2 linked regions of the Homo sapiens genome follow. The protein of the gene in region 2 purifies or fractionates together with the protein of the main gene of each other region. This does not show direct contact. Each region holds a gene or a part of one and is shown on either strand. Other genes may lie near its edges.

Region 1 (7,027 bases), on a different chromosome or scaffold from region 2:
TTAAAATTTCATGGAAGGGGGCAGAGATTAAGAAAAATGTGAAAAGGCTCCTTTTAAAAATAAATTTTAAAAAATACTGAGAAGCACTGCCTTAGGTAATCCCTAAAACCTATGAGGCCGTAAATATTATTAGCAGATTTTTCTACCTGAGAGAGAAATAATACATAAGGGAAATCATACCGTATTGAAGTTTAAACAATTCTAACCTGTGTGGTATGGCCACAGGTGAATAACTCTTGAGTCAGTGTCTCCCATCCTCCCCACCCTGTCTTCCTCATAGAGCTGTGAAGATTAAATGGCATAGGCATATGATGGGCCCAACATCTAGGTGGTGATCAACAATGTAACTCACCATTCAGAAGAAGAATTGGGCATTCTTAAAGATAGATGACAGACTGTCCTTGCTAAACACTGACAACCTGAAACATGCAACAGTACTAAAATATGTGCCAATATATGAAGGGCATTCCACATGCTGGGAGAGCAACAGTAACAACAAATGGTGTATTTTAGTAACTCAAGAGCTAGACACTCTCCTGAGCACTTATCTTGAATAATCTTACTTTATCCTCCTAACACCCTTGTGTGGGAGGTTTTATCGTCTCCATTTTACAGACCAGAACCAAGATAGTCAGTTCATGTTTAATAACCAGCACTCCACTAGTTACTAAATAACCTTTTTTCAATGCTCTGGTGCTGTATTTCTGTTACATCCTTTATCTTACTCCAAAGTCATCTATATATCAGCCTTCCTCCTAATCATCTCTAGGTGAGAGCAAGGATTCTGTTTTAGACATTTTTGAAGGCCCTACATAACCCACTACATAGTAAGCTCCCAAATCAATATTGCTAAATCAGATGGACTATACGCTAAATTAAAAAAAGATAATCAAATCAGAAGATGCATACATATATATATAAAATTTGATAATACATAAAACAAATATCAATAAATATGGGGCAATAAAAGATGAAAAGATGCAGGATAAATCCTGATTAGAGTCAGTGTGGTCAATTAAGATCAATTTCAGAATGGGATTTGATGGTGGAGAGGAACTGATCAAAGACAAGGAAACCAGACGCATTTAAGAGATGCTGAACTTATTTTATCCTGAAGCAAAAGAAGGGCCTTGAAGTCTATAACAGATAAAAAATACACTCATTTTGGAAATGAACCATCAGAAAAATGGATCACCAATTATACAGCAGTAAAGAAACCTGTGAGGCAGGACTAGCCAAGAGAAGTCAAGCATTCTTACCGACACAGTAGTGTCGGCCCCCTCTGGCTGGAAGCTCCAGGAGACTGAGGTCAACCCGCCAGTCGTACTAGTAGACTTGAACTTGCAGGTCAGCTTCCCTTGTGTACCATTTGCCACGAAGATTTCTTTTGGCGTATATACTTCCAAGGCTGATACTCCAGCTGTCACTGAAGAGAAAGGAATAAGGGTAGTTGAAAGTAGGACTTAACATGAATACCACTGTGCATTTTTGCCAGACAAGAAAAGATACAGCAAAGTTACTAGATATATACAGTAATTCACTGCCATTACATATTTCTGGCAGAATATTCTACAGCTAAGTTCAATCAGAATAGCACTATAAACAGAATAATTGCTGACAGTTTAGGTTTGTATTGCTTTTTAGTTAAGATATTTTTATTAGTCTGGTTATATTGAATTTTTTTTTTAAACTAATAGACTTTTTAAAGAGCAGTTTCAGGTTTACAGAAACATTGAATAGAAGGTAGAATTCTCATATTCCCTCACTCTCCCATGGCCAACCTGTTTCTCCTATTATTAACATCTGGCATTAGTGTTATACGTTTGTTTTAATTGATGAGCCAATATGGTTACATCATTGTTAACCACAGTCCATAGTTTACATTAGGATTTGTGTTAGTGTTGTAGATCTTATGGATTTTGACAAAGGTGAATAGTGACGTCTCCACCATTACAGTATCATACAGAATAGTTTCACTCCCTAAGCATCCCCTGTGCTACACCAATTTATTCCTGCCGTCCTTCCCCCCACACCCCTGGCAAACACTGACCTTATACTGTCTCTATAGGTTTGCCTTTTCTAGAATGTTATCTAGTTAAAATTATACAGCATGTAGCCTTTTAAGGTTGCCTTCTTTCACTTAGTAATATGCACTTAACTTTCTTCCGTGTCTTTTTGTGGCATAATATCTCATTTCTTTTTATTGCTGAATAATATACAAATTGTATGGATGTACCACAGTTTATTCATTCACCTACTGAAGGACTTCTTGGTGGCTTCCCTGATGGTCTATTTTTAATGAGGTGATGGGCATATTTTTATTTCTTTAAGTAGTTCTCATGCTTATCTGTTACGCAATTGTTATCACACTGAACTTTTCTCATCATCCATATGTAATGCAATTAAAACTATCCTAAGATATAACTTCATTTTAAAGCCACATTTATTATTTAACTGATCCTTTTCTTATAAAGAACTTAAGGAAGAAAAATGCATGTTTTGGTTTTGTTAGTGCAATCATACCTACCATAAGATTTCACTGTGCTAGGTAAGTAAACAGCTGATTACACCGTATATCACATTTTCATTTCACCCATCAAGTTTTGTCAGTTAGCCTAAGCCCAGGAAATAGTAATTGAAATGTGTCTACCACTTAGAATATAAAAATGGCTCTTTTTTCAAGATCTGCAATAGTAGGCAACTGCAGGAATTGTTAAGGATTGCTGTTAAAAGTATTTGCCAAATTCTTAAAGATTGCTAATTTGAACATACTGCTATAAAAGAAATGCTTTCACAGACAAAATGAAAGTCAGAAAAAAAAAACTTATTTGGCCCAAAATTGGTAACTTAAAAATACCCATCTTCCATATTTTTTAAAGAAATCGTTTGGAATAAATATCTGCAGTGTTGCAATAATTCTTAGAATGTAACAGACGGGCAGAATAAGGAAGAGTATTGTCAGCCAGGACTGATGGTCATTTTCAGAATTTTTTCTCCTTGAAGACTTAACTGACTCTCAGCCAAGGAGAACAAGAGTACTCCCCCATTCCTCCCAACCATCTTGCAAATGTTTATTCTCAGGACATAATGGGCACTTTTGGCTATTCTTTTAAATAAACTGATAGCCATACTGCATCAAGCAGATTTTTTTTTCTGCGAAAGAGGGTGGATTATTATTACAGGGAACAATAGATTATTATTTGCGGTCCAAACCTCAAAACAAGCATTTCTTTCAGAGGAGATGCAAACAAAAGAGTTCCTTGCTATTGTGGGTACGCAGAAAAGCAGCCCCAGGGCACTTGAGTTCAAAATGAAGGACAAAGCACAAGACTAGACTAGTGGACCAGCTTATTCCAGGAAGCAGCACTGGCTTGCAACCCTTATTCACTCTGTGTGATTTTGACTAGTTTTCTCCATGGTGATGAGTACTGGAAAGCCACAGTCTCTAAAAGTCTATAAATAAAGTTTCTCAAGGATTTTCTTTTCTTTCTTTCTTTTTTTTTTTTTTGAGACCGAGTCTCAATCTTGTCACTCAGGCTGGAGTGCAGTGTTGCAACCTCCGCCTCCTGGGTTCAAGCAATTCTCCTGCCTCAGCCTCCCGAGTAGCTGGGATTACAGACACCCACCACGACGCCCAGCTAATTTTTGTATTTTTAGTAGAGACGGGGTTTCACCATGTTGCCCAGGCTGGTCTCGAACTCCTGACCTCAGGTGATTCACCAGCCCCGGCCCCCCCAAAGTGCTGGGATTACAGGCGTGAGCCACCGCACCCAGCCTTCTTCAAGGATTTTCTTAAACCAGATCCCTTCCTCGAGGCCTAGCTGCAAGACTTGTCATCCCGAGACATTATTTAAAGATGGAATTAGACCAAGTGTCCAAGTTTACAGTCACAGAATTTTGAGCAAAAAGACTAACCAAATTCCCAAATGGCTTTTAGGCATCTATTTAAGACACAGATTTCATTATACCAAAGTTAGGTAATAAACAGGTGGCTTTTTAAAAAACACACAACACTCTTTGGCTAATCTGAACGTGTAGCTCTTAGCCAGGATTATGAAATCCAAAGCTAGCCCATCAGCTAGCTCAAGAAAAAGAAAATGATGCCACACACTGAGAAATTAACTTCCTCCCATCCCTGGCTATCTACACTTTTCTCTAATACTACTCTTGTCATCATTTTTGGAGATTTCATCAGTTGTAAGATAAACCTTCTAAAACCCTAGTCTGTTTATCTTCTCCAATAATCTGGGTAAGATCAGGCCTACCCCAGCCACTCATTTCTATGGTCATACCTGTTCAATCAAGTTTAGCCTAAAGCTGCCTCCTTACATATTTTAAGTTCAGCCTAAGGGTTTTTCTGTACACTGTGAACTATAACAAGTGTAGGTGTAAACAGGCCGTAGCCAATCACCTTGGGCCAAGCACCGAGTTTTGGCCAATCAAATGTAGCCAACTGTTCAAATTGTGTTCAAGTAAGGCAAATGCTGAGCTATAATCAATGCAGCTGTTTCTGTACCTCACTCCCGTTTTCTGTACATCACTTTCCTTTTTCTGTCCATAAATCTTCTTCCGCCACGTGGCTGCGCTGGCGTCTCTGAGCCTACCTTGGCTCAGAAGGCTGCCCAATTCGCAGTTCATTCTTTGTTCAGTTAAACTCCTTTAAATTTAATTCAGCTGAAGTTTTTCTTTTATACCCTAAACCAGGGCTTCTCAACCTCAGCACTACTGACAACTGCCACAGACAATCCTTTGTTGTGGGAAACTGTGCTATACCTTGTAGGATGTTGAGCAGCACCCCTGGCCTCTACTAGATGACAGCAGTATCTCCTCTGCCTCCAGTTGTGACAACCAAAAATGTCTCCAGACATTGCAAATGCCTCCTCAGAGGTGAAATCCCCCCAGTTGAGAATCACTAGCTCTAGACCCAATCATCAGTACCTGCACCCACTCCAGAATCGTAGTTTCAGGCTTCTCTACTCCCTAATTGACCACCTCTTAGCTTTCCAATATCCTCCAAAACCCTGAGTTCACTGATCCCTAAGCTGCATCAGAAACTAAAATCCCAGCATGTCTTCATTTGCCTTACTCAGACTAAACCCCATAGGCCACCATTATACTCACCCCCTTGCATACACAATCAGCTCTCTTGCCTCTCCCTTCAGGGCCTTCACCTGGAACCTCTATCCTGGTTAAATTCAATTCTCTATCCACTATGCATCTCCACCAGGGTGGCTGACCACAGCTGGACAAAAGCACACAATCCCACTGACTATTTTCGCCTTAAATGTATGGTCACTAACCTTAAAGGGACTCTTAATGCTGTCTAGCAATCCACCCACATTGCCCTAATCCATCTGCTTTCCATTTCCCTAGAGGACTAGTTTAAACCTTCCTCTCTAACCTCAAATTTCCACTTCCTCTGGTTTCTCACTCCCAGCTAATGACTGAGCTGCTTATTTCACCGAGAAAACAGAAGCAATGAGAAGAGAACCTCCCTATGTCCAGACACCATAGCTACCCACCTCCCTGCATCTGTGCCCATTCTGCTTTCCCTGCACTCCTATGTAGAAAGTGTCTGTCTGCATCCCTCTCCAGGATGAACCTCTCCACTGCACATTGCATCTCATCTCTTGCCTACCTAAGGACATTTATTGATCCAGCAATTCTCCCTCTTCTGAATTTTTCACTCACTACTGAATTACCACCAGCAGCAATATAAACATACATATTTATATTTATATCCCAGGTTTAGAGAAAAAAAACCTTGACCCTGCATCTCCCTGCAGCTCTGGCCCCTTTGTCCTCCTTTATTTTATCAATCTTGAAAGAACTGTCTGTACACACTGTGTCCAATTTCTCTCCTCTTCTGTTCTCTTGGATAAATCCAATTTAGGCTTTCATCTCCGTTACTCCATAGAAACTGTTTTTGTTAAGGAATGCAATGACCTCCATGGTTAATTCTCAAATCTTGTCTTATTGCCCTATCTAAAACCTTTGAAAGTTACTCCCTGCTAAAACCTTTTTTTTTGTTTTTTAACAGTTTGGCTTTTGGAATGCCTCTCCCTCTTGATTCTCTTATCTCATTGACTGCTCCTTCCCTGGTTCTCCTGACCTCTATATGATTAAGAGCCCAGATCATTTCTCTGACTGCGTATCTATTTAACATTCCTTCTCTTGGTGACCTCACTCAGTTTCAAATGCTGATGACACCTGTACACACACACACACACACACACACACACACACACACACACACACACAGCCTATTCAACTTTGCTTGGATGTAATTGGCATCATCTCAAATTTAATATGTCCAAATTAAACTCCTGATTCCCACCCCCCAAACTTCCTTTCCATGGTCTTCTCCAAATCAGTAAATGGTAACACCAGTTTTCTAGTGGCTGAGACCAAAACCCTGGACTGTTTTGTGACTCCTCTCTTTTGCACAACTTTCCTCCAAGCTGTCAGCTACACATGTCATCTCTACTTAGAAACCTATCTAGAGGGGCCGGGTGCGGTGGCTCACGTTTGTAATCCCAGCACTTTGGGAGGCCAAAGTGGGCGGAACACCGAGGTCAGGAGATCAAGACCATCCTGGCTAACATGGTGAAACCCCGTCTCTACTAAAAATACAAAAGAATTAGCTGGTGTGGTGGCGGGCGCCTGTAGTACCAGCTAATCGGAAGGCTGAGGCAGGAGAATGGCGTGAACCCGGGAGGCGGAGCTTGCAGTGAGCTGAGATCACACCACTACACTCTGGGCGGGGTGACAGAGCGAGACTCTGTCTCAAAAAACAAAACAAAACAAAACAAAAGAAACCTATCTAGAAATTGATCTCTCTCTGCCTCATTTGGTGTCACCATCTTGGTCCAAGCCACTGTCATCTTTCACCTGGATTAAGTATTGATAGCTTCCTAATTGGTGTCTGCCTCCTTCAGCCTTCCCCACTTCACAGCAACTAGTCCACAGAGAGGCCAAAGAGATCTCATTAAAATTCAGGTTGGATCATATCACTCTTCTACTCAAA
Region 2 (7,027 bases):
AGGACAAATTAAAACCAAAAGAGGAGATAGCTTATTTCAATAGGAGGATGTAATGTTGGACTAAAATGGCTTTTCCCTGTTCTAATCTTGTAGTTTTCCCCAGTTCCTTCTCCATATTAGCAACGACTATTCCAGAGACACTTTTTGCCATTAGCAATGTCTACATTAGTTGTATCTGTCCACTTTTGGGATGGTCAACACATGATGTGTTATAAAGGGCACAAGTAGCACTTGTGGCTCAGGAAGGAATGTTTGCTTATCTTGTGGTTCATATTACCAATCTGTCTTGGAAAAAAGGCGGCTATTCACTGTCAGGGGTTTATTCTAGGTTTTCTGCAACTCATTTTTGGTGGTGCTAACTGGTATTTACCTTCTCATTGATGTGTAGGGGGAATAATCCTCAATATCAAGTGGTTGGAGGGAGTGTTCTATGCGGCCCTAAACATATGCACAGCAAGAAACATGGCCCACTCCCAAGTGCTGCAGCTTCTGAGTGAACTCTTTCTCTCCGTGCACTTTGAAGACTGTGGGAAAGACACAGCATCTTGCCCAAAGTTGCAATTAACAGATTTTGTCAGCAAAGCCTATGGCAAGAATTTGTCTCAGGAAAGGTAAGGGCATTGGACAGCTGGCCATTCTCATTTCTCCCAGACTCTTCTCTTAGTTAATGCTTTTTTTCTTTTATCCTTTCATGTTCTCTTTAAACATTGATAAAAATTATACCTTTTTGTAAAGAATTTCAACTAGTGGAAAAGTAAATGCCATCCTTTGCCTTCCAAATCCCATTTCATAGATTTCACCTCTAACAGTTTTTATATTTTTATCTATGCATTTACAAACATTTATATTGTTATAATGTATATGCATATCTATTCCTATATATACAGTGTTAGACACATGGGAACTATATATTCTGCTTTTTTACTTACTGTATCACAGCTACCATTCTATGTTAGTACAATCATAGCTACTTCATTTATGAGCAGCTACCTAGGTGTCCACCGGACACATTTATTCCATTAAATTTATTCACTCCTTTTCCACTTGATAGAGATGTAGTTCCTCCTCTCATCCCCAATTTTGCATTACGGGCTGCTTTGACATTCTTTATTTTATTTTATTTTATTTTGTGAGACAGTCTTGCTCTGTCACCCAGGCTGGAGTGCAGTGGCACGATCTCGGCTCACTGCAACCTCTGCCTCCCGGCTTTAAGTGATTCAAGTGCCTCAGCCTCCCGAGTAGCTGGGATTACAGGCATGTGCCACCATGCCTGGCTAATTTTTGTATTTTTAGTAGATACAGGGTTTCGCCATGTTGGCCAGGCTGGTCTCCAACTCTTGACCTCAAGTGATCCGCCCGCCTTGGCCTACCAAAGTGCTGGGATTACAGGTGTGAGCCAGTGCGCCTGGCCTGCTTTGAACATTCTTGTACTTTGTGCACTTGTACCAGTATTTCGGTGGCATATGTGAAAGAAGCTCTGGGTCAAAGTTTATGCATATTTTATATTTGATAGGTGTTCCCAAATTGCTTATAAAAAATGTGGTACTTGTTTACATTTCTACCAACAGCATATGAGGGTGCCACTTCTTTAATATCTGATAACTATCAAATAAATATTTTTGATCTTTGATAATCTAATATGCAAAGATTATTGCTCTTATTACTAGTGACTTCCATGTCACTAGATCCACTGGATGCTTTAAACTCTTTTTCTTCCTTAATTATTGAACATGCCATCCTTCTTGAAGCAGTCTCTTCTCTAGGCTGTCATGATCCCTCCCGTTCTCCTCATTTTCTTCCTGACTCCCCGGCCCCTCCTTGGCTAGCTTCTCCTCTGCCTCACCCTTAAATCTGGGTGTTTTCAGGGCTCTATCCTAGGCCCTTTTCTTTTCATGCTATACTTCTTTTCATTCTATACTTTGTTCCCGGTGATCTTTTCCACTTTGGGGACTTAGGTTCCCATCTTTTCACTGACAGCATATAACTCTGTATCTCTAGCCTAAATGTCAATGCTGTGCCTAGGTAACTGTGTATTCACCATCTCCACTCAAACTCACCATGTCCAAAAACATACCTGCTCTTAAACCTGCTCTTCTGATGTTTCTTACCTAATTATATGCTGCTTCACCAAGTTGTTCAAGTCAGAACCCTAGATGTAATCCTAGATTCTTCTTCCTCATCTTTCGTATTCCAATCAATCATCAATGGACAGTTTATTCTCTATGCCTGTGATTCACGTTTGGTTTGGAGATTTTTCTTCTTCATTATCCCAGGGATTCCCCTCACTTTTCTGTTGTATTGGATCTCTTGTTTCCTGTCATGGAAACATCTCTTGTTTCTCTCTCATGAATTACTTCTTAATTTGGGGGGAACATGTCCTGTAGTACCTTCCTGAGAAAGGGTGCATTGAAATAATTTTCAGAGACTCTTTGAGATGTTTTTATTCTAGCGTTCTATTTTATTGAGAACATAGCCAGGTATAGAATTGCAGGTTGGAAATAATTTTCCCTTAAAATTTTGAGGGATTGCATCTACAGCCATACCACCCTGAACGTGCCTGATATCATCTGATCTCAGAAGCTAAGCAGGGTCGGGCCTGGTTAGTACTTGGATGGGAGAATTTTGAGGCATTGCTTCATTGTCTTTCAGCTTCTAGAGTTGCTACTGAGAGTTACAGTGCCATTCTAATTCTTAATCCTTTGTCTGAAACCTGTTTCTTTCCTTTCTGGAAGCTTATGAGATCTTTTGACCTCAGTATCTTGAAATTTTATGATGTGCCATGATGTAGGTCTATTTTAATTAAATGTTGAGCACTTGGTGGGCCTGTTATTTCCATTAACTTTTTTGTTTTTATTTTTATTTTTTTGATAGAGGGTCTTACTCTGCTGCCCAGGCTGGAATGCAGTGGTGTGTAATGTTGGCTCACTGCAACCTCCACCTCCTGGGCTCACGTGATCTTCCCACCTCAGCCTCCCGAGTAGCTGGGACTACAGGCACACACCACCACGCCTGGCTAATTTTTGTATTTTTAGTGATAAGTCTATCAAGCAATATAGTGTCTGGGATTGCCTTCAAAATAATCCAATAGATGGGGGTAAAGGAGTAGGGGTGGGGTTTTGTATGAGAAAAGATTAGCTATAAATTGATAATTGTTAAATCTGAGTGATAGGCATATGGAGTTTCGTTATACTATTTTTTGTTATATTCTTTTTTACTTAATACTATTCTATGTTTCATTCTATTTTGTTTTAAAATTTCCATAATAAAAACAAAAGGTTTCCTTCTAGTAGTTTGTCAACCCTAATTTACTCATCCCAATTTTATTCTTCTCAAGTTTTAAGAAAATCTATTTCAAATTTTATCAGTTTCCCTTTTAAGCATTTAATGAGATTTTTGTTTCTCCTCTCCTTTAAGATTGTAATATTTAATTAATGTTGTAAACTATATAGTTTTCCTGTCAAATTTTCCTTGTATTCTTTTTTTTTTCTGAGACGGAGTTTCACTTCTGTTGCCCAAGCTGGAGTGCAATGGTGTGATCTCGGCTCACTGCGATCTCTGCCTCCTGGGTTCAAGCGATTCTCCTGCCTCAGCCTCCCAAGTAGCTGGGATTACAGGCATGCACCACCACACCCGGCTAATTTTTTGTGTTTTTAGTAGAAATGGGGTTTCACCATGTTAGCAGGCTGGTCTCAAACTCCTGACCTCAGGTGATGCCCACCTTGGCCTCCCAAAATACTGGGATTACAGGCATGAACCACCATGCCTGGCCTGATGTGTAGCATCTTTTCATATGCTTATTGACCATTTGTATATTGTCTTTGGTGAAGTGTCTGTTAAGGTCTCTGGCCCATTTTTAAATTGGTTTGTGTTCCTATTGTTGAATTTTTTTGAGACGGAGGTTTGCTCTTGTTGCCCAGGCTAGAGTGCAATGGCACGATCTCGGCTCACCGCAACCTCTGCCTCCCGGGTTCAAGTGATTCTCCTGCCTCAGCCCCCCGAGTAGCTGGGATTACAGGCATGCACCACCATGCCTGGCTAATTTTTGTATTTATATATTTTTAATAGAGATGAGGTTTCTCCATGTTAGTCAGGCTGGTCTTGAACTCCCGACCTCAGGTGATCCGCTCACCTTGGCCTCCCAAAGTGCTGGGATTACAGGCGTGAGCCATGGCGCCCGGCTCCTATTGTTGAATTTTAAGAGTTCTTTGTATGTTTTGGAAAACAGTCCTTTATCTGTCTTCTGCAAATATTTTCTCTAGTCTGTGGCTTATGTTTTCATTCTCTTGACAGTGTCTTTCACAAAGCAGAGACTTTTAGTTTTAGTTATTTAAATTCTTTAATTATGTCCACCTTGTCAATTGTTTTTTTCATGGATCATGCCTTTGGTGTTAACAACTATAAAGTCACTGCCAAAGCCAAGATCATCTAGATTTTCTCCTATGTTATCTTCCAGGAGTTTTATAGTTCTGCATGTGACACATTTTGACTTAACTTCTGTGAAGGGTGTAAGGTTTGTGTCTAGATTCATTTTTTCTTTTTTGCATGTAGATATCCAAGTGCTTCAGTACCATTTGTGAAGAGACTGTCTTTTCTCCATTATATTGCTTTTGCTCCTTTGTCAAAGAGCAGTTAACTATATTTATGCGGGTCTATTTCTGGGCTTTCTATTCTATTCCACTCTATTTGTCTTTCACCAATACTGCACTGTCATGATTACTGTAGCTTTAAAGGATGTCTTGAAGTTGGGTAGTGTTACTCCTCTGACTTTGTTCTTCCATTTCAATACTGAGTTGGCTATTCTGAGTCTTGTTTGTTGTTGAGACAAGGTCTTGCTCTGCTGCCCCAGCTGGGGTGCAGTGGCACGATCATGGCTCACTGCATCCTCAACCTTCTGGGCTCAAGCAATCCTCCCACTTCAGCTTCCTGAGTAGCTAGAACTACAGAACTACAGGTGCACACCATTGTGCCCAGCTGATTTTTTATATTTTTTTGTAGAGATGGGATCTTGCTATGTTGCCCAGGCTGGTCTCAAGCTCCTGGCCTCAAGTGATCCTCCTGCCTCAGCCTCCCAAAGTGCTGGAATTACAGGCATGAGCCGTCACACCCAGCCTGTTCTGAGTCTTTTGCTCTTCCATTTAAACTTTTTTTTTTTGAGGTGGAGTCTTGTTCTGTTGCCCATGCTGGAGTGCAGTGGCGCCATCTTGGCTCACTGCAACCTCTGCTTCCTGGGTTCAAGCAATTCTCTTGCCTCAGCCTCCCCAGTAGCTGGGATTACAGGCACCCGCCACCATGCCCAGCTAATTTTTGTATTTTAGTAGAGATGGGGTTTCACCATGTTGGCCAGGCTGGTCTCAAACTCCTGACCTCGTGATCCACCCACCTCGGCCTCCCAAAGTGCTGGGATTACAGGCATGAGCTGCTGCACCTGGCCCCATTTAAACTATAGAGTCAATTTTTCAATATCCACAAAATAATTTCCTGGGATTTTGATTGGCATTGCGTTGAATGTGTAGTTCAGTTGGGAAGAACTGGCATCTTTATAGTATTGAGTCTTCTTCTCCATGAACATGAAATCTCTATATTTATTTTGTTGTTTTTAGACTTCTCTCATCAGTTTCATAGTTTTCCTTATGTAGATCTTGCACATATTTCATTTGATTTATACCTAAGTATTTCATTTTGGGGGTTCTAATATAAATGGTAATGTGTTTTTAATTTTAAATTCCACTTGTTCATTGCTGGTATATAGAAAAGACACTGACTTTTGCATATTAATCTTGTATCCTACAACTTTGCAACATACATTTAAACATTTGCCCTATTGCTTCACTAAGCCATTCTAAGTCATAAGAGACTATTCCTGTAAATTGTGTATTCAGTGAAAGGCTCATCAAAAACTCAGAAGAATAAAACCGTTTGTCTCTTATCTACCTATGACCTGGAAACCCCCGCCCCACTTGAAGTTGTCCCACCTTTCCAGACCAAACCAATGTACATCTTACATATAGTGATTGATGTCTCCTGTATTCCTAAAATGTATAAAACCATGCTGTGCCCCGACTACCTTGGGCACATGTCATCAGAACCTCCTGAGGCTGTGTCACGGGCACATAGCCACAACCTCGGCAAAATAAACTTTCTAAATTGACTGATGCTTGTCTCAGATACTTTCTGGTTTACAGTGTTATCTGTTAGATCAGTTAGGAGTAAGAAAAACTAAAGTTATCTTCACTTGTTCCTTCTTCAGTGCTCTTCTTTTCTTTATGTAGATCCGTGTTTCTGACCTATATCATTTTCCTCCTAAGGAACTTCTTTGAACATTTCTTGCAAGACAGGTCTACTGGCAACAAATTCCCTCAATTTTTGTTTGGTAAAGTCTTTATTTCTCCTTCACTTTAGAAGGATAACTTTGCACAGAGTTCTAGGTTAGTGATTTTTTTTCTTCCTGCACTTTAAATATTTCACTGCACTCTCTCCTTGCTTGCATGATCCTAAAAATCAGCTTTCTTATCTTTGTTTTTCTATGGGTATGGTGTTTTTTTTCCCTCTGGCTTATCTCAAGATTTTTTGTTTTTCTGTAGTCTCAAAATGATATGTTTAGGTATAGTTTCTTGTGTGTTTTTGTTATTTATCCTGCTTGGTGTCTTCTTGAGCTTCCTAGATCTGTGGTTTGGTGTCTGACATTAATTTGGGGGAAATTCTCAGTCATTATTGTTTCAAATATTTCTTGTGTCCTTTCTCTCCTCCTTCTAGTCTCATTATGCGCATGTTACATCTTTTGTAGTTGTCCCACAGTCCTTGGATATTTTGTTCTGTATTTTTCGTCTTTGTTTTCTTTGCTTTTCAGTTTTGGAGGTTTCTGTTGAGATATCCTCAGATTCAGAGATTATTTCCTCGGCCATGAACAGTCTACTAATAGGGGCCTCAAAGATATTCTTCATATCTGTCACAGTGTTTTTAATGAGTAGTATTTATTTTTGGTTCCTGGAACTTCCATCTTTCTGCTTCCGTAGTCTGCCGTCTACTT

The links.
Region 1: the proteins of NOXRED1 (region 2) and MPZL1 purify together in Homo sapiens (affinity purification with mass spectrometry; 3 studies listed by BioGRID and IntAct, with this or other methods). This does not show direct contact.

Annotation. Positions count from the first base shown.
Region 1 is NC_000001.11:167,759,982-167,767,008, reverse strand, and holds part of MPZL1 (myelin protein zero-like protein 1 isoform a precursor), read right to left. Parts: intron 1,427-7,027; coding exon 1,260-1,426; intron 1-1,259. UniProt on the Homo sapiens protein: Cell surface receptor, which is involved in signal transduction processes. Recruits PTPN11/SHP-2 to the cell membrane and is a putative substrate of PTPN11/SHP-2.
Region 2 is NC_000014.9:77,399,497-77,406,523, reverse strand, and holds part of NOXRED1 (NADP-dependent oxidoreductase domain-containing protein 1), read left to right. Parts: intron 1-388; coding exon 389-611; intron 612-7,027.